Homo sapiens: one gene and its partner. The protein of the gene in region 2 purifies or fractionates together with the protein of the main gene of each other region. This does not show direct contact. Each region holds a gene or a part of one and is shown on either strand. Other genes may lie near its edges.

Evidence for each region. The genes of interacting proteins can lie anywhere in the genome.
Region 1: the proteins of CORO2B (region 2) and SSH1 purify together in Homo sapiens (co-immunoprecipitation; one large-scale study listed by IntAct). This does not show direct contact.

What each region holds. Positions count from the first base shown.
Region 1 is NC_000012.12:108,776,770-108,781,137, reverse strand, and holds the end of SSH1 (protein phosphatase Slingshot homolog 1), read left to right. Parts: 3' UTR 1-2,947; downstream 2,948-4,368. UniProt on the Homo sapiens protein: Protein phosphatase which regulates actin filament dynamics. Dephosphorylates and activates the actin binding/depolymerizing factor cofilin, which subsequently binds to actin filaments and stimulates their disassembly.
Region 2 is NC_000015.10:68,584,564-68,589,907, forward strand, and holds part of CORO2B (coronin-2B), read left to right. Parts: intron 1-5,344. UniProt on the Homo sapiens protein: May play a role in the reorganization of neuronal actin structure.

The sequences.
Region 1 (4,368 bases), on a different chromosome or scaffold from region 2:
CCCTTCTAGGTAAATCTCTATGGGGTGCCAAATTTTGGTTAAGAATTGCTTATTGAATATTAAAAGTTTAGTGGGATGCTTCTTTTTTTTTTTTCTTTTGAGATGGAGTTTAGCTCTTGTTGCCCAGACTGGAGTGCAATGGTGTGATCTCAGCTCACCGCAACCTCTGCCTCCTGGGTTCAAGTGATTTTCCTGCCTCAGCCTCCCGAGTAGCTGGGAATACAGGCATGTGCCACCACGCCTGGCTAATTTTGTATTTTTAATCGAAATGGGGTTTCTCCATGTTGGTCAGGCTGTTCTCAAACTCCCAACCTCAGGTAATCCACCCGCCTTGGCCTCCCAAAGTGCTGGGATTATAGGCATGAGCCACCGCGCCAAGCCACAGGATGCTTCTAATAGTGTTATCAAGCTATAATGCAGCCCTCTCTGTAAAATGTTTTAAAAACAAATCACTGAGGGTCATGGTTCAAGACACTGTTCTCTGGCAAGGTTGAAGATAGCTAACAAATTCTCTTTGGGTTCCAGCCATGAATGGGGTGGGATGGGCCCCAGCAATCTGTATGTTTCTGAGATTCCCTGGGAATTCTGATGGCCAAGTTTAGAAACCATCAAAATAAGAATATGATGCAACTGAGTAGGCTCACGCTTTGCTAATTACATTGCACACATGCTTTTTGGAGACAACACCCACACTACCCTAACAATGTGTGTTCATAAAACTCATCCGATACTTATTTGTTCAAGGCCCTAGGACAATATTCCTGTAATGGGCTGCTTTTGCCCTGATTTCCTCCTCAGAGTAACTGTCTCGCGGTTGGGCACGATCCCAGATCACATCTACAGTGGAGGTGGTTTTGCTGGGGAGGATCCGCATGCTTGTTTGTGTTTATGCCTGGGGAACCCCCTCTTGGCAAGATGTTCGGGAGAGGCTCCAAAGGCAGCACAGAGGACGGCTTGGAACTTAGGGGGATTCACTTTATGGTAAAGAAGCCCTTTCTAAAGGAGAGCTCCACCCAGGAAACACCACCCACCCACGCATCCTTGCCTCCTAAAACCAGGTTATGTTTATCACATACCTTCTATGTGCTTTACATAAAGAATCCCCTGGAATTCTCCAAACTGGGCATTGTGGTCTGTGATGCATATCTCAAAAGAGGTGAGAGGGTTGGGCACGGTGGCTCACGCCTGTAATCCCAGCACTTTGGGAAGCCAAGGCAGGTGGATCACTTGAGGTCAGAAGCTCAAGACCAGCCTGGCTCACATGGTGAAACGCCGTCTCAACTAAAAATACAAAAATTAGCCGGGCATGATGGCGGGCGCCTGTAATCCCAGCTACTCGGGAGGCTGAGGCAGGAGAATCGCTTGAACCCAGGAGGTGGAGGTTGCTGTGAGCCAAGATTGCACCACTGCACTCCAGCCTGGGTGACAGAGTGAGACTCTGTCTCAAAAAACAAAAAAAAGAAAAAAAAAGGTAGAGGAGAGTCCTTTTTCTAACTTTCTTGAACTCTTTGGACTACCTTGGGATCCTTCTATTAACTGCCTTGTTGGCATTATTCTCAGTTTATGAAAAAACAGGCCCACAGAGTGGAAGTAATTTGCCTACAGGTACATCTAAAAATTGATGAAGCCAGATAGGAACTGCTCCCTCATCATCTGAAACCCTTCCCAGAGCTGTCTCTCCCACCCCAGAAGTAGAAAGAAGCCAGACAAAGATGCATCTTGATCTCCCTTGTGGTTTCAGCAAGGAAGCAGATGAGTTGGAGATGAAGCCCCCAGCCCCTGGGAAATTGGACCCACTTCTTGCTCCAAAGGCTATTGGGGTGACACAAGGTGTGTTTCTTTCCCGTAGATCATATTCACCATATTTTGCCTTTAAATGGAAATTGTGCATCCTGAAGTACCTTGTTAAGAGTCCATTTTCAACCTGAAATTCCTTTTTTTTGTAAACCACTTCAGCAAATACAGTGTGGCATTTACATTAGCAACCTCCCAGCCTAGGAGAGGATGCTCCAGCATCCGACTCTAAAAGACAAATTTGGGCACGGTGGCTTGACGCCTGTTATCCCAACACCTTGAGAGGCCGAGGCAGGCAGATTGCTTGAGCCCAGGAGTTCAAGACCAGCCCAGGTAACATGGTGAACCCCCATCTCTACCAATAATACAAAAATTAGCCAGGCATGGTGGTGTGCCAGTGGTCCCAGCTACTTGAGTGGCTGAGGTGAAGGATCTCCTGAGCCTGGGAGGCAGAGGTTGCAGTGAGCCGAGATCGAACCACTGCACTCCAGCTTATGCAACAGAGCAAGACCGTGTCTCAAAAACAAATAAAAATAAAAGATTTTAAAAAGACAAATTATCCCACAAATGGTACATTGTGGTGGTGGTGGTGGTGGTGGTGGTAGACCTCCCTCTTGCTCTTGAAATTGGATCAGAACAAACTGACAATGCTACCTACTTCATGGGGTCATTGGTGAATTCACTGATAATGCATGCAAATCCCCTTCTGCCTGGCACACTACCTAATAAATAAATGGTGGTTGTTATTGTTGGAATTGGAGGATATATTCCTAGTTGCAAGGGTTTCACATGTATTACCAAGTTAATCCTCACCGCAGATATGATTCTGTTTTACAGAGGAAGCAGTGGATGCTCAGAGAGGTTAGGTAACGTGGGTCAGGGACACACAGCCAGGAAGGGGCAGAGGCTGGGAGTGCCTGACTCCAAATTCATGCAATTTCTACCCCACCATCTTCTCCCCAAGGAAAATAGTCCCTAATGCATGTGTGCAATGCTTAGAGGGCAGTAGATGCTCAACAGATGCTGAGAGAGTGAGGGAGTAAATGAGATATGCCATGAAAAGGAGCCCCTGTGGACTTATGCGTGCGTTTGTTTAACTTGTGGGCAAGTACTTATAGACAGGTGCAAACAATAAATCTCCTTTTGCAACTGAGAACTTGTTGTTCAGTATGAGTTTTGATACATATAAGAAAGGCTATTATGATACCTAAGACAGTTAACTAAGGGAGGGAGTATTGATAACCATAAGTGTTAGTTGCAGGCTGGGCACAGTGGCTCATGCCTGCAGTCCTCTCACTTTGAGAGGCTGAGGTGGGAGGATTGCTTGAAGCCAGGAGTTCAAGACCAGCCTGGGCAAGAAAGCAACACCCCATCTCCACAAAACTTTAAAAGTTAGCTGGGTGTGGGGGCATGTGCCTATAGATGTAGCTACTCTAAAGGGGAGGCTGAGGCAGGAGGATTGCTTGAGCCCAGGAGTTGGAGACTGCAGTGAGCTTTGATGGCACCACTGTACTCCAGCCTAGTCAACAAAGTAAAACTTGTCTCTTAAAAAAAAAAAAAAAAACAAAAAAAAAGGTTCTAGGACTGTAGAATCATTAGCTTAAAAGCATAGGATTTGAGGGAAAACCTCAGTTATATTAATTTCGTATTCCAATTTCATGTTGACTTGATTTTTTATAAAGATCTTTTTTAAAAAGGAGCCCCTGCTTCATTTGCCAAAGCTTGGAACGTTTGGGGACACCCATGACTGGCTAAACCAAGTTCCACTGGGGCTGGGGCCATGTCTCAAGTCACTTCTGAGACTGGCAAGGGCCTGGCATATTGGGACTGAACCCCAGGTCGATGCTAGGCATTTGCTGTGAATCAAAGAATCCTGAGTTTTTCAGAGTCCAGAAGAATCTGAAAGGTCAACCAAGCCAAGCCCTTTATAACATCCACTCATTCTGGCATTCCTCTCTGGTTCATGGAGCCCCTGCTGTGGGCCAGGCACTGAGGAAAAGAAGAGGCAGTCTATGTCATCCCGGGGATCCTGACAGAAAGCCCTCTGTGAAAGAAAGAAAACTCACCACCTGCTAACAGCAATGGTTTAGACAGGGAGGATTCAAGGCTTATTTTGTTCCTTCTTTTGTCTGTCTTCCAAAATCTCTGCAACAGAATTATGTTACTTTTTTTTCTTTTTTTTGAGATGGAGTCTCGCTCTGTTGCCCAGGCTGGAGTGCAATGGTGTGATCTCGGCTCACTGCAACCTCCGCCTCCCGGGTTCAAGCAATTCTCCTACCTCAGCCTCCCGAGTAGCTGGAATAACAGGCATGCACTACCACACCTGGCTAATTTTTGTATTTTTAGTAGAGATGGGGTTTTGTCATGTTGGCCAGGCTGGTCTCAAACTCCTGACCTCAGGTGATCCACCTGCCTTGGGCTTTCAAAGTGCTGGGATTACAGGTGTGAGCCACCACATCCGGCTTTTTTTTTTTTTTTAGACAGAGTCTCTCTCTGTCACCCAGGCTGTAGTGCAGTAGCCCAATCTTGGCTCACTGCAACCTCTGCCTCCTGAGCTCAAGTGATTCGCCTGCC
Region 2 (5,344 bases):
CACAGCCTCCGCCAGGGCCAGGGCTGGTGGAGTCTCGGCTCCTGGCACCCGGGCAGCCCTGACTCTGATTTGGATATGCCTGGCCACAGAGCTTATCTGGTGTCCAGGAGATGAGAACGTGTGCAGATTCTCTCTGCGCCCAGCCCTGTCTCCTTCCCTCTTTTCCTGATCAGCCCCATTGGGTTCCCATTCCTTCCCCTGTAGGCCCTGCAGGCTCAGGCCCAGGGTCCTGGAGCACCCTGCAGCCTGGGGAGCTTGGGGCAGCTGGCATGGGGCAGGCCTTGCCAGGGAAGGACAGATGCAAATCCAGTGGCTTCCACATGAAAAGTAGCTGTTTAGAATGAGCCTCTCCTTTGTGGGCCTGGAGTGCGGGACCAGCTGCTAAGGAGGCACAAGTGGGGTGGGGGTGGGGAGTGGGGGAGAAGCCACCACCGCCCTTCCTCATCCCTCCTTTTTGCCCCCGCAGAGGCCCCTGGAGGGACTTTGTAATTGGTTTCTGGCTGGCAACCTCCTTCCAATTAATTAATGTAGCAATGGGAGGCTCCCAGGTTTGCTCAGGCTGTCTTTCGTACAGAATACATACATGGGTTACTTCCCTGAATCCCATCAGCTCTGTCATGGTGGGGACGGTCCCCTCTATTTAGGGACGGATAAACAGAGTGTCTGAGTGGAGAGATGACCACACCCTGGTCCCAGAGCTAATGTGGGTCAGAGGCGGGATGCACGCCCAGATCTTCTGGCTTTGAGCCAGAACCTTTTCAATCCGATCACATAATGGTCCACAACCCATGAAGATTAATCACCATCATCATGATAATAACAGTTATTAAGCAGGCGTTGGGCACGCATGATCGCATTTACTCTGTACAACCATGGGGTAGATTCTATTATCCATCCCATTTTCTAGAGGAGGAGAGTGAGGCTTAGTGAGAGTAGGTGAACGGCTCAAGGTCACAGGTTGAATGAATGGGTGGGGAGCAGGGATTTGTACCTGGGCTGTCTGACTCCAGAGAACACTTTCATCTCACTTCCAGGCCTTTGGTCCTGGGGCATGATCGTACTCTGCTTCCACTCCCCACCAACCCCCCACCTACAACACAGTGGGCTATTGTCTGTTGTGTTTGTGGCCCTGCCACTGAGGATGTGCAGGACAAATGCTGGTTGCCTTGAGGGTGATGCCCATGGTTGTGTCCTGCTTAGATTTGCCTGTGGTCTTTACTGGAGCTAGGAGTCATGTAAATGATTCGGGGAAGGGTGCTGGGGGAGGAGGGTGTCCTATACATGGTGTTTGACATCAGATTGGGCTGCTTGGGTAGGGCATTCAGCCGAGGGCAGAACAAAGTATGACAGAGGCAGAGCCGCCTTCTCCATTTCCATGAGGCTAGCTTGGTTCAGAGAACGCAGGTCCCTGGTCCAGGCCTGCAGCCCTTACGAAGCAGCCTTTTCTCGAGTTAGCCCCTGATGATTTGGGGTTCCACTGGCTAGGAATGCTGGCTTTGAAGTCAAACACATGGCAGTCTGTCATTTACTTGCTGTGTATTCTTGGGCAAGTTGCCTCACCTCTCTGAACATCTGTTTCCTCATCCATTCATTGGGATTGATAATAGTAACAATCCTTTACTATTAAGGATTGTTATTAAGATAAAGTGAGCCGATCCATGTGAAGCACTTACCATATGCCTGACATGTAGTGTTAGCTGTTATTCTCAGGAAGACAGAAAATTAATGAGTGTCCTGGGGCTTATGAAATGAGCAGTACAGGGAACTCTGGGAATAGCAGGGGGCCTGACCTAGTCAGAGGGATGAGGAAGTGACTTTAAGTTGAGTCATGAAGGATGAGTAGGAGGTAGCAGGTGAAAGGAGGGGAGCTGAGGAGGGAGCAACAGGCCGGGGATGAATGGGCAAACGTCAGGAGTCAAAAGCCACGGACCTTGATCACTTCCTGCATGCTGGACATTGATGAGAGCATGGTACAAGTATCCACTCATTTAATCCTCAGAGTGACATCATGGCATAGGTTACTGTTATCATCCCTGCTTTACAGATAAGGACACAGGCACAGAGAAGCTAAGTCACCTGTAAAAGGTGGCCCAGTGAGGCAGGATGAGGCTGGTCCAGACCCGGACCTCCGGATTCTGGCCTCTTTCCTTCCCGCTGCCTGCTGCTTGGTGATAGGGAGGGTGGCCTGACCCTGGCTGCTTCTAAAACTGACCCAGGCAAGGGGGTGTGGAAGTGCCAAGTTCAGTTGCCTACCCCGATGCCTCACGGAGCCTCCTTGGGCTGTGTAAAGTGGCCAGAGGCCCTCCTGGCTCTCAGGCAGGAGGGAGAAGTCATTTATTTTTCCAAAAGGAAACTTTGCTCTGGCAGGAAATTTTCCACCTTATATTTTTAGTGGGCTCAATTATGACCATTTTTGTTCTTTAAATCTTTCTTATTATCTATATTGGGCCTTGGTCTTTAAAGTCAAACTATAGGGAGATATGTATACACACACACACACACACACACACACACACACACACACACACACACAATTTTTTTCTAAAGTGTTAAAAGTCCACACCAATAGTCCCAGCTACTCAGGAGGCTGAGGCAGGAGATCATCCTGGGCAACGTAGTGAGACCCCATCTCTAAAACAAACAAACAAAAAAAACCCCCTAAGTGTCTGCAGTTTGGTGTCTGCTCTGTCCGAGCTCAGAGAAGGTGGATGTTTTACATGGTGTTCATGCCACAGGCTTAAACTTACTGTCCCCTGTATGAGATAAGTGTCAACACCCCTGGAGGCTCTGGCTGCCCAGAGCGGTGGTGTGTGGAGGCTCACCCTGGGTAGGTGCTCATGCTAATTGCTGGGAAGCCTCCATGATCAGTATTTAACTCCGGAGATGTCTGAGGTCATCTGGGCCAGCACTCTGCCTGTACGGCACTCTACACTTTTTAGGAATATCACAATGATTCCTAATTTTAATTTAGATTCGTTTAAGAAATACCAATTTAATAGTAGTCAGTTCTCAGCCTTTCACCAGGTGCTAGGCCCCTGCTTTCAAGGGACCAACAGACAATAACAATAACAATAATAATAGAAGCGGCTAACCCTTCCGGAGCACTTAGTTTATGCCAAGCATATACAATATGTTTTATATGTATTAATTCATTTAAGCTTCATGACAGCCTATGAAGTCTGTGCTATTATTATCCCCCTTTCTATGGTTGCAGAAATGGAGGTCCAGGGAAGGAAGGGAGGTAACTTTTACAGTGTTCCCACAGCCAGTCAGGGACTCAGCCTGCCTCGCAGGCCTTCTGTCTTGCCACTTTGTCAGGCTGGTGGGAATGACCCGGAAATATGTGGTCCAGAGCATGGGACCTGGAGGCAGAAGACCCAGGCCTCGCTCTTGCCTCTGCTCCTTACTGTGTGACCTTGGGCTAGTCCCTGGATGTCTCTGAGCGTCTGTGAAAATGAAGTTAGTAGTCTATCTCTGTAGGGTGCTCTAATATTTAAGTAACATGGAAAGATGTAAATAAGGTGCTTTGTAGATGTCATGGCAGGAAATGGTTTATTGTGATGTCTAATCTGTGCCCACTCCTTTCCTCTTCCTCACCAGTATTTCAAGGCCCTCAGATTTAGGCAGTTCCTTCCAATAGCTAGCCCACTTCTCCCCTGCTGTAGTCCTTATTTCAGAATTGATTCATACTCTGTGGGTGGAAGAGAAAAGTTCATCTCTTCCAAACAGCCTCTATCTGTTTTTACTCTGTCAGGCTAGTTTGGTGCAGATGAAAAGTTGCTTTTCTCTCTTCCTGTTCTGTCTATTTTGGCTGTTTTAATATGCTTGGGACAAATAATCTGGCTATAAAAATGTGGTGTCCTGCTTTCATTTGAAAAGTGAGCCAAATAAAGCATCCAAACCTTGATCTGTATTATCCCGGCTCTCTGTAGATCAGAGCTCCCTGTGGAAGGCGAGGGAAGGTGGGTCCCAGAGCACAGTCCTACCTGGGTCCCTGGGCAGAAAGACCAGGTTCCCACTGTCAAATGACCTTGATCTTTGCTCCAGATACCTCCCGATGCCCCCAGCGCTCAGACCTGCTTTTCCTTTAGGTTTATGGAAAGGAATAGCCTCTACTAGCTTGAGGCATTTGCAGCAAATCATTTAAACACCTTGAGTTTGATTTCAGAACTAACAGTTTTATAATCTGGAATCTGGTAGAATCCAGGACGTGGAACGGCTGATGGAAAGAAAGGTGTTGGTGGAAGGGGACAAAGGGATTTAATTCCTGAGGATTTTTATTTAACTCCTGAAAAATTGCTGGTTATGCCTGCCCTGCTGACCTCCAGGTGAAAGACCAGCTTGCAAAAATGCATGGGGAAATTTGGGATTCCGAGAAATTTGGAATTCTGGGAAAGGGGATTTCTGCATACCTGAGTGGCCAACTGATAACTTTATCATCACAAATCTTTCTTCTAGAGACCCTGAGTCTGCCTTCCTGCCTTACTCATTAAAAGATCTGGGAACAAACTCAAGTTATTATGGATTGAGGCTGTTTCAGGGCTTGAGCTGTTCTGTTAAACTGACCTTTTCAGGGTTCGGATCCACATTAATTTCTCAATCCTTGGAGTTCCTGTAGCATGTGATCCCTGGTATACCAGCCAGCAGGTAAAGGCCTAATGTGCCTTGTTTGCTGATTATCTTATGAGCATGATCTTTGGCTCCCTAACTTGTGAGCTTGCTGAAGCTAGAGATTAGGTCTGATTCTTTTTAGTAGCTTTCACAGCATTCATCAAAGGGCTATGCATGCCAGTTAGAGTGTGTTGTGGATTTTTCGAATACCAGGTATAGACATATAAGATTTGGCAGGATTTGGAGCAAACCTAAAACATTCCCTGTTGCTGCTTGGACAAAATCTCTACTGTTAGAGATCTGTGGACTGCTACAGCCGGAAGGGACTTTAAAGATGTACAGTAGAAACGCCCATTTTGCAGAGGAGAAAACTAAAGCCCTAGAAAGTTTTCCCAAGGGGGTATAGGAAAGATGTGGCTGAGTGGGAACTGGGGCTCCCCCAAGTTACTGCTCAGGTTGGGTTTTCCAATTCTGTGGGTTTTTTTCTAGGCTTCTAGTAGTTGCCCGATGTTGGCAGGCCAAGGACTGATTCAAAAGTGGGGAATGGGAGAAAGTTCCAGAAAGGAGACTTTGAGAACTTAACCTAGATGGGAGGAGGCACCTGGTTGGAGAGACTTGGCTCCCCAAGTGACCAACTAGGAGCGCCCTGACCAGAGGCCTGGTTTGGCAGTGGCAGAGGCAGAGGGAGCAACTTCGGAGCCCTTTCTGCTCAACCATCAGGCTGCGGCTGCCC